Linked DNA regions of Homo sapiens: region 1 is linked to region 2. Evidence: fine-mapped expression QTL. A gene starts in region 2. The other region holds a variant in brackets. All regions are shown on one strand. Distances are from middle to middle.

Region 1 (5,383 bases), 100 kb after region 2:
ATCTTGAATGCTTTGCTGCTTAGAGATTTCTTCCACCAGATACCCTAAATCATTACTCTTAAGTTCACATTTCCACAGATCCCCAGGGCATGAACAAAGTACAGCTGAGTTCTTTGCTAAGGCATAACAAAGGTGACTTTTGCTCCAGTTCTCAGTAAGTTCCTCATTTCCATCTGAGACCTTGTCAGCCTGGACTTCACTGTCCATATCACTATCAGCAATTTGGTCACAACCATTTAACCAGTCTCAAAGATGTTCCAAACTTTCCCTCATCTTCCTGTCTTCTTTTGAGCGTCCACACTCTTCCAACCTCTGCCCATTGCCCAGTTCCAAAGGTGCTTCCATATTATCAGTTATCTTTATAGCAAGACCCCACTCCTGGTACAAATTTTCTATGTTAGGCTGTTCTTACATTGCTATAAAAAATACCTGTGACTGGGCATGGTGGCTCACACCTGAAATCCCAGCACTTTGGGAGGCCAAGGCAGGCGGTCACCTGAGGTCAGGAGTTCGAGACCAGTTTGGCCAACGTGGTGAAACCTCATCTCTACTAAAAATACAAAAAGTAGCTGGGTGTGGTGGCACATGCCCATAATCCCAGCTATTCAGGAGGCTGAGGCAGGAGAATCACTTGAACCCAGAAGGTGGAGGTTGCAGTGAGTTGAGATCATGCCACTGCACTCCAGCCTGGGTGACAGAGTGAGACTCCATCTCAAAACAAACAAACAAAAAGAAATACCTGAGACGGGTACAAGGCAAAATGAACTCTACGTAAAAAGAGAAAAACAACCAACCCCTGAGACTGGGTAATGTATAAAGAAAAGAGGTTTCATTTGGCTTACAGTTCCACTTTATAGGAAGCATGGTGCTGGTTTCTGCTCAGCTTCTGGGGAGGCTTCAGTGAGCTCTTACTCATGGCAGAAGGCAAAGTGGAAACCCACACGTTACATGGCAAAAGCAGAAGCAAGGGGAAGGGAGGAGGTGACACACACTTTTAAAAAATCAAATCTCACAAGTACTCACTATTGTGAGGACAGCACCAAGGCATGAGGGATCTGCCCCCATGATCCAATTACCTCCCACTAGGCCCCCCTTCCAACATTGGAGATTATATTTCAACATGTAATTTAGACTATAGGTAGGACAAATAACTAAACCATTTCAGACATAGATATCTTAAATTGAAGTGAAATTTACATAACATAAAATTAACCATTTTGACGTAAACATTTTCAGTGACATTTAGTGCATTCATAATGTTGTGCAACTGCCACTGATTTATATTTTGAAAACATCCTTCTGGTTGCTATGTGGAAAAGGGATAGTGGGGTGGTCCTATGGTCTGAATGTCTGTGTCCCCCCAAAGTTCATATGAAAATCTTAACGTCCAATGTGATGGTGTTAGGATGGAGAGCCTTTGGGAGGTGATTAGGTCAGGAACCCTGATGAATGGAATTTGTACCCTTATAAAAGAGGCTCCAGAGGACTGCCTTCCTCTCTCATTTTTTATTTCTTTTTTAATAAAGATGAGGTGTCATCATATTACCCAGGCTGATCTGGACCTTCTGGGTTCAAGTGATCCTCCCACATCAGCATCCCAAAGTGCTGGGATTGCAGGTGTGAGCCACCATGTCCAGCTTGCCTTGTTCTTTCACCATGTAAGGACACAGACAGAAGGTGCTCTCTGTGAACCAGGAAATGGGGCACTGTTTCTGCTGGCATCTTAATCTTGGACTTCCCAGCCTTCAGAACTGTAAGAAACAAATTTCTGCTATTTATAAGCCACCCAGTATATGGTGTTTTGTTTTAGTAGCCTAAGTGGACTAAGACAGTGGGGGAGCCAGGGAACAAGAGAAGAAACATGTCTGGAGGCCAGCGCTGTGTCCAGGCAAGAGATTATGGTGGCTAGGGTATAGCAGAAAGGATGAAGAGAAATGGCAGATCTATAGGGCATATTTTTTAGGAAAAGTCAACAGGGCTTTCTAACAGATTCAATGGACCATGTAAGAAAAATATGATATATATGAAAGTACTCTGTAAACTTCATACACTTGAAATGTTAACATCATTATGAAGAACAGGGCTTCATGATCATTAAAGAGAAAGAGCTTGACTGGATGGTCTCTCAAGATCCCTCTGAGTCCTGAAATCCTCTGATGCTTTAAAGGTGGGTAAACTGCCTTTGGTACAAAGGGGAAGAATTATTTAAAGATTTTCTTGATCCCATGCAGTGTCCAAGTGCTTTCAGAGGACAGTCCAGGGCATCATCCAACCACACACTCAG[TGAGA/A]ACAGGCAAAGCCTGCCTTCCTCCAGCCAGCAGGACTACGTCATGGCCTGGAGGCGAGCATGGGAACTGGCAGGCCTGGGCTCAGCATCCCAGACACTACACTCCTAAGAGGGAAGTGCCCTGACGCCTGGGCTCTCAGACCTCAGCGATGTCCAGTAAAAACACACTGGGTGGTGAGGCCTGGGGCCAGAGAAGGGAAAGTGCTTCCAGCAGTGCAGCCCTGTGTGGATGACTTTTGCTGGCAGTGAGCATGCCTTAAAGGCTATAGCACAGCTCCCAGAGTCCCCAGGGGCTGGAGGCTGAGATCTTTCACACAAGTGAGGCTCATATCAGACCCTGTCAGTATCCAGATCATGTTCAGGTGGCAAGGGTCTTCAAGAAAGACACTCTCCAAAAGACACTTTTTTTCCTCCCTCCTTTCTTCTGCTTTGAAGAGTGTGCCGTTAATCAAAATCTATGTGGTTTATAATCTTCACAACCTCCTCTGGAAAAACTGACCTCTTTTTCATATAAGATTTAGCTTTAGATAGTTAGGTTTCAACTGGGCTGGGAAAACTTTTCTTAACAGAGAGTTTCTCCCTAAGCAAATAAAGAAGCTGAATTAACTGTTTAAAGTTCCTGAGTAATAATACCACTGCTATTATAACTTGTGAAATGGTCCTTCTTCCATCAGAGAGAACAAACAGCTCTTAGACACCACCAGAACGATGGTTTTCAAAGTGTGGACCCCAGACTAACAGCACTGCCATCTGCGTCTCCTAGCACCTGTTAGAGATACAAATTCTAGGGCAGCATTCCTGACCTACTGAATGATAAACTCTGAAGGTGGGGCACAGAAATCTGTGTTTTAAAATGCCTTTAAAGAGGTTTTGATATACACTCAAGTTTGAGAACCACTGCATTAGAGAAACAGAGAAATGTGGAGCCACAGAAAGTCTGAGTAGAGGAATTAGGTATGCACCTGATCACATGATGGATGGAGAAAGGAAGGCCACAGAGAGAGAAGGTGACTTGTCCTAGAAGACACAGAGGACAGGTCACCTTTTGGTCTCTGGGTTCTCCCTCCCTTCCCAAAGGAAGACTCAGATTTTTCTTTTGAATTATATTTTTCCCAGAAGTTTTAGCTGTTCACTTTCCCATTAACTTTTAACAATTTACTCCATGTGTTTACATAAATCTGGTCATTTTATAGTGTAGAAAGTATATGACACTGAAATGCTCAAGAGATCTCAAAGAGAATGTGGCTTAGGTTGGGTTCCCTGAAAGCAGACTTGGTGACAGAGACTAGCATGCAGAAGGTTTATTGGGTATGTTTCCAGAGATGCACTTACAAGGATAGGTGGGGGAGAAATTGACCCTTCATATGTTGTAACTGAGGCCTTACCAATGCTACAGGGAGTGCTGGAGCTGAGATGAGCCTTCAGAATTGTCTCCTACTAAAGCCAAGGGCCCAACCATTGTATCTCTGCATCAGGCAGTCATTGGCTATTGAGCCATGCCTGGGAGGGGCCTTAGTCTGGAGCCAGATAGTTCTCTGCCAAGGTCATTGCCTAGGAAGGGACACAGCTGTGAGCCATCAGCAGCTGGAGGCTTGTGCCTCAGCCCTGAAGTGGGGATCTGGACACAATATGAAAGTATTGTCCACAGAAGGCATTCCAGATTTGGGATGGTTGGGGCAGGGTCAGAAAAAATCACCTGCTGAAAGTAGAGACAGAAAACCCCAAGACACGATATCAAAAGAATCTGATCCTAAGAGAAAATGTGTTGCTCATAAGACTAAAATATTTATCATCTCTGCTAAATGCTCCAAAATCTAGTAAAGAAGATGATGGTATGTGCCAGAGCTTTCCAACAGATCTGTCAGGGCCAACTGATGAGCAACAATGAGTCACAGATGTGTGGGGATTTTTACTTCCTGTAGATCTCAGGGTGGCAGAACAGGACCTGGGATGGCTAGAATCCTTCTGTCAATTCATACACATATTGTTGCATGAGTGCATTATTTACAAAAAATTAGAAAGCCCTAGCTTATAAAAGAAGTTGTCATCTACCCAATTGTGCCCTATTATATCTGGCATCACAGATGGTCTGCATAAATACTCTCTAAACTGGTGGGTGACCTCAAGCACTGTGCCAGGGTGAGAGCCCTCAAATTCTGAGAACCAGTACTTTTTATTCAGAAACGTCTCCAGAGCGCAGAAAGGCAGTGAATCCAGCTACTCTAGAATGATGAAATAGCCTTATAAACAAGAACACTCTTGAAACTTTGCTCTGCTTTTGTCTACATCAAGAAAATCTCCTTTATATTTCAGCATCCCAAGTAAGATTATTTATCCTCAGGGGCACTCTCAGAAAAGGTTGGGCACTTATGATCCTACCTGATACCCTCATTGATAAGTCTGTATTCATTTGTCAATCAGGCTCTTACTTAGAGAATCAGCTCCCCATAGCCTTCTTATCTCTGAGGAACTTAAGGAATTAAGTTCCCAACCCAGCAAACCTGAGGGCCAACTCCTGGCTCATGGTGACCTTAGGCAATTTACTTTCCCGGCAGCATCATTTAATGATTTCCCTAAAGGAAACATCTCACACAGAAGGGACTAGCCATGGGGAGACCACTGTTTTGCCACTGGGTACCTGAAAACTTCATCTGTCCAGATCTGAGCAGGATAAAAAGGAGTTTGGAGTCAGACATCTGGTCAGTGAGGCTTTTGCTGGCTCCCTGTGAGAATAGCTGAATCCCTGTGGCACCAACACTTAGGTAGCATGCTCTGCAATCACTGGTCCTGGGGACAGACTAAGGGAAACGCTGAAAGCATACTCAGAGGGTCAGTTCAGATGGGAAAAGTAGCTTTCCTAAGGTTGTAGGGGACAAAGGCTGCTTCCCACAGAGCCTGCCTCAGGGGTTTGGAACCGGCCAGGGCAACAGGCCAGGTATTTCAAGCCTGTTGCAAGACCATCTGGGGAGACTGGATGGAGTTGGGATTTTGTTCCTGCACCCCATCTTCCCATTCTATCTCTCATCATTTTGTAGGGAAGAAACACTAGGTCTTCCCTGTGTGGTTGTGAGCTTTGACCCAAACCCTTGAGCTACC
Region 2 (5,383 bases):
TGCTGGGATTACAGGTGTTAGCCACTGCGCCAGAACAACACCAACTGTTGATCATGTCATTAAAAGCATGTAACTTGTGACTTCTTAATCTTTATTTACTCTAAATGAATCATTGACCTAAAATACCTGGACATCATTTTTTATTCAGTGTTGACTCAATATAATCCCTCATTCCTCAAGTTCCAAATTAGTCACGTTGTCATGCCCACCTCATGCATATCTGACATTATAGGCTCAATGCAGCTAAACTGATTTACTTCTGCCCATTAAACCAGCATCAAAGCTTTTACACAGAGATTGGCAGTCTGAGACTGAACATATTTTTCAATGAATATCTATTGAAAACCTACCAATTAGACAGGCACCATTCTAGACACTGGAAATACACTATTAACAAGGCAAAATCCCTAACCTCATGGTACTTACCTTCTTGTACAGTGGTTCTCTAACTCTAGTATACATCCAAATCACCTGGAGGGCTTATGAAAACATTGCTAGAAAACACCATCTCATCTCTTCTCCCAGCACCTGTTTCTGATTTCATAAGTCTGAGGTAGGGCCTAGAATTTTTCATTTCTAACAAGTTTCCAAGTGATGCTGCTATTGCAGTTCTTGGACCACACTTTGAGAACTACTAGTACATGAAAGTCTGTCCTTCATTTCAAAATCAGAGCAGCCACTTACCCTTGGCATAGAAAATGGTTGAGCAACTTGGCACACTATTTTTGGAAAGATGCCATAATTTCTGCACTTTTATTAAATTCACTGAAAATCCATAATCCACTGGTTATTTATAAAAGGGACAAGAGGTGAATGAAGGAGATAACAAATCAGTCCCATCTGTTCTTTACATGGAAGAGTAAAAAGTATCCCCAAAAAACACCCATGCAACTTAAAACACACAAAAATAAAGAAGTTACAGTCTTTTATGAGGAGCTGTTTCTTTTTGCTATTGTTTTTTGTTTCTTTGGTTGGTTGGCTTAACTCTACAGGGTCTTTCTAATTATCAAATGCTGTTTTAGTCTAACACAAAAAAAATTCAATCTCAACTCTCTGATAATATTTTCTGGTAATAATCACTTACTGGCCTCATTGCTTCTCTCACAGGAACCAACATAAAGCCAATTTAAAATCAAGGAAAGATAATATTAACATGGTGATAATGCTCTTAGCCTAGGCCATTTGATTAATTCTTTCCCAATTCCTCTTATTCCTCCAGACTCTGTAGTTGTTCCTTATGTTTGTCTGTCTTTGGCCATCTACCACCTCCTTCTACAGTGTTTTCCTTGGAGAATTCATATAGCATGCCTAGGTCCAGGGACTCCCATCTGTCTATTTCCAGTCCTTTCCACCTACATGAATACTAATTATAGAGTTTCCAATATTTACTGAACATCTCCACTTGAATACCTTATAGTTTCACATTTAACATGTCTATAACCAAGCCTACCTTACTTCTGGTACCCCTCTCTTTTCTTCTGACACTAAGACACAATTTTCCCAGCTCTTCAGGCTCAAAACCATTTAATAACCTTTGAATTATTAATAAAAAAATATTATTATAGCAGCCAAGATTTAGAGAGTGCTTACGCTATAGTAACTGATAACATTATGCAATTGTTTAATTACATACAGCAATTAATGAAACCGAGCTAACATATGCAAAGCACTTAGAAAAGCCTCTAGCACATTGTAAATATGAGCATAAAAAAATTATCCATAAGGACCTGGTATGGTGGCTCATGCCTGTAATGCCAGCACTTTGGGAGGCCAAGGCCTAGGAGTCAAGAGTTTCAGACCAACATAGGCAACACAGCAAGAACCTATCTCTACAAAACATTTTTTAAAAAATTAACCAGGCATGGTGACGCACTCGGGGAGGCTGAGGCAGAAAGATCACTTGAGTCCAGAAGTTCGAGGTTGCAGTGAGCTATGATCACGCCACTGCACTCCAGCCTGGGTGACAGTGAGACTCTGTCTCTAAAAATAAATAAACAAATTCTCCACAATAACACCACAAGGGAAGTCACTCTTCCTATCTCTATTTTACAGACAAGGAACTCAGACCCAGAGATGGCAAATTGCTAACTCAAAGTCATTTAGCAGCTAATTGCCAAAGCCAGATCCCAATCCAGCCAGTCTAACTCCAAAATTTCTGCTTTTAACCACTATGCTAAACTGCTTCTCTTTGCCTCTTTCTCTTTAGTCAATTCCACCTGACTGTTACTCTGAAACAGGATCCCTTTCTCTCCAGCACTTTCAGTTCCAGCTCTTTATCACTGGATTACTGCACTGATTTTCCACCTAGCACCTCCGCCTCCATGTTTTTCACTCTTTTCATTTAAACGTCATAATACTACCGACTAATCTTTTCAAATGAGCTTTCCCTATCCTAAAGCCTTGAAAAGGCTAAATCGTTTGCCAGTTTCCAAAAACTCATCCTATCTAACCCCCGTATTTCTCGAATAAACCTTCCTGTCAGGCTGGCTAGTTTCCTTCCTCGTCCCGCGACCTTGTATTCTTCATATTATTCGTTTTACTTAGAATAACATCCATGTTCTCCTCTACTTCTTTTAACTAATATTATCTTCTGAGGCCCACTTCCTTTCGAGTAAGCCCAATTCTAGCAGCCTTTTTTCATCGCCTCGATATTTAAACTACCTCCCATACAACTTGCACTGTTCACTTTGTTCCACGTGCACAGCTTTCGCCTCCTTTCTGACAGTTCACGACCAAACCTTCTTCCGAGACCCCATGATCTCCGCTTCCTAACCTACAGCCCCCAAAACGATGTTTCCAAGATGCACTGAAGGCCTGGACCGTGGCAACAGACCTGCCACACATTCCTAAACGAGTCTTCGGTCAGGGGAGGGTGACGGAGGGTTCCACACACCGAACACACGGTCATATCATCCTCAGGCCAGCCCGTGCACACGCACGGTCAGGCAGCTCTGCTCAGCACCCGCAACCGCGCCGAGTAGCTGAGGGGCTTCCAAGTACTGCTGTGGGGACGCCCGTAGTTACCTGAGTTCCCCCAGCCCTAGCAACCGGCCTTTAACACGCCCGTCTCGGCTGCTGCTGACATCACGAACGCCTCAGCCAGAATCTGCAAAATCGGAGCCGCAGATAATGCTCTCCGCCCCAACCACGCACCTCCAGGACTCACCTCAGCCTCCACGAGGCTCCCAGCCGATTGGACCCGCCCACAAGACCTGCCCCTTCCGGGTCCGTTCCGGAAGCCTCTTCCGCCAGAGGTTCCCTTTGCCTTCTAGGAGGAAATGACGGAGAAAGCCGGGCGCTGATTGGTGAGCTCTGGCCAGGAGCGGAAGCCGGTGTTTCGCAGCCCAGAGCATTTGCAGCTGGTCACTCCAGTCTCCTGGGACTTTGACTCGCCGTACTCGGCGCGCTCCTGCTGAGGGTCGCCGGAGATGTCGCTCGGCCGCCTTCTACCAGGAGCCTGATCCGTGCCGCCCGCCGCCCGGATGGGACCACCAGAGTGCTGTGAGAGGAGGGACTGAGGCCGGGAGGGAAGGCGGGGCGGAGAGGGCCGGGGGCGCGGTCCGAGGCGCTCGGGACTCGGCCCTGGTCAGGATTGCAGGCTGAGGGTTAGTTCTGTCACTTCTCTTGAAGAACGAGCCTGGCGCCACTTCCTCGCATGTTGGTTAGGTTCTTTCCCGAGGCGTTGTCGGGGACGCCGTCTCTACGAGAAGTGAAAGGGTGGGCAGTCGGCGGGCACTAGGAACAGTGGTGCTGTAGCCAAGGAGGCGGGCGCCCTAGGGTGCAGGTGAAATGGGGCAGGCGGGAGCTCTTGCTGGTTGTAGTCCCAAAGACAAGTCCGTGTTGCCGTTCCTGTGGACTGGACATTCTACGGAACCGAGAGCACCTCGGGTGAGGGGTGGGTAGACGCTGAGCCCAGGATGGTGCGTTGTCTAGGTTCCCGCAATCCCTGGAGTGACACTGGCCTGGCTTTGTGTTTCCGCTCTCTGGCCGCTTGAGGGGGAAGTGACCAAGGCTGACTCCTCCTTGTTTGCTCACTGAGACTTAAGTGCTCTTTCACCAAGTGGGAATTAGCTTTTCTCTCTTGCATTTCTGCTACTTTTATTCTTGAGCTGCATAGAAGTGTTTAGAAATGAGTTCTGATGTCTAGAGCTGTGCAAAATTAAAGCTAACATAGCTGTACAAAAGAAGATCCTGCCGGCGCTTCTTGAACAAGGTATCTGCAGCCAGCCTAGAAATTAGACTTTTGTCTACATTATCTGATTTTCTTTAGAGTTTCCTGAGCTTAATGCATGTTCAGCTAATCTTCCATATTCAAGAAAATTGCAATAGCAAAGAATGCGTATGATGAGACTGTGGACAGCTGTAGCAGCATAGGAGTTTTGAAACAAGATTGCTGTGTATTGGATAAATGAGAAGGGAAGAAATTGTGGCCACAAACTATTATTTTAATAAGCTTGGTGGGAAAGGGAGCATTTGAGTGGGTATGTATGGTTAATATCCCTGACAGGTGCTGTGCATTATATTATTATGGGGAGAAGTGTGTGCTTCAATGGAAAACTACATAGTTTAGATTCTATCTTAACACCCCTTGGAATAACTAATTCTAAAAAAGCTATTTTTCAGTTACGTAAACTAGGTAAGTGACATCAATGCTAAATAATTATTGTCAAGACATGCGAATTCTCTCAGAGATTCAGTGGAAGTTTTGCCTCCTTTTGCACATTTATTTCAATATTCCTGCTCTAAGGTGTCTAATTCTGGGATTTTCTTTATCTTCTCTGCCTGGTTCCATTTTGAGTTAAATAAAATCTTGAACACGGGTTTGGTTTTATATTTGAATGAGTCATGATTTTACCTTTTCTTAAAAAACTATCTTAATATTATTAAATATTATGGGATGGGACAACCACAGATGGAAAAAAATGATTTTAATAAGAGTTGGTATCAGAGCAACTGTGAGTGGTAAGGTAATGCATCTTACAAAATTCCTTATACAATGTTTCAAGGATGTAACTCTACTTCCTTATTTAAGTTTCAAAATGCCTAATATATCAATATTTACAATTAAAACATAGTGCAGTTCATTTAATATGAAGGGGTACTACTAATTTACTGTTAGGATATGTTCTTTGGGTGCTTTTGAATTATGATGTTAAATTTGACCCAAGCCATTGACAAGCTTAGGAATGTTCTTGTTATACTGTATTTATTGTTGACATATTTGACTACTTCAGTTAGTCTTCCAATCTGAAAATCTTTTTTAAAAAATGTCTTTCTGATGGCATAAAATGATTCTTAAGTATGGTGTTGGATGGTGGCATAAAATGATTCTTAAGTATGGTATGCACACATATCCTCATGTACTCTGAACTGTTAAATATTG

The links.
Region 1: its variant is fine-mapped to the expression of WDR3 in whole blood (INTERVAL, PIP 0.99).

The regions. Positions count from the first base shown.
Region 1 is chr1:117,825,419-117,830,801 of GRCh38, reverse strand. No RefSeq gene overlaps it. Among named protein-coding and RNA genes, the nearest start is that of GDAP2, 100 kb to the left of the region's middle. The variant TGAGA/A (reference allele first, on the strand shown) is at 2,285.
Region 2 is chr1:117,927,566-117,932,948 of GRCh38, reverse strand. It overlaps WDR3 (WD repeat domain 3), which reads right to left and starts at 3,210. Exons shown (of 27, transcript NM_006784.3): 1 at 3,167-3,210. It overlaps GDAP2 (ganglioside induced differentiation associated protein 2), which reads left to right and starts at 3,328. Exons shown (of 14, transcript NM_017686.4): 1 at 3,328-3,501. RefSeq lists enhancers at 3,058-3,227, 3,109-3,403.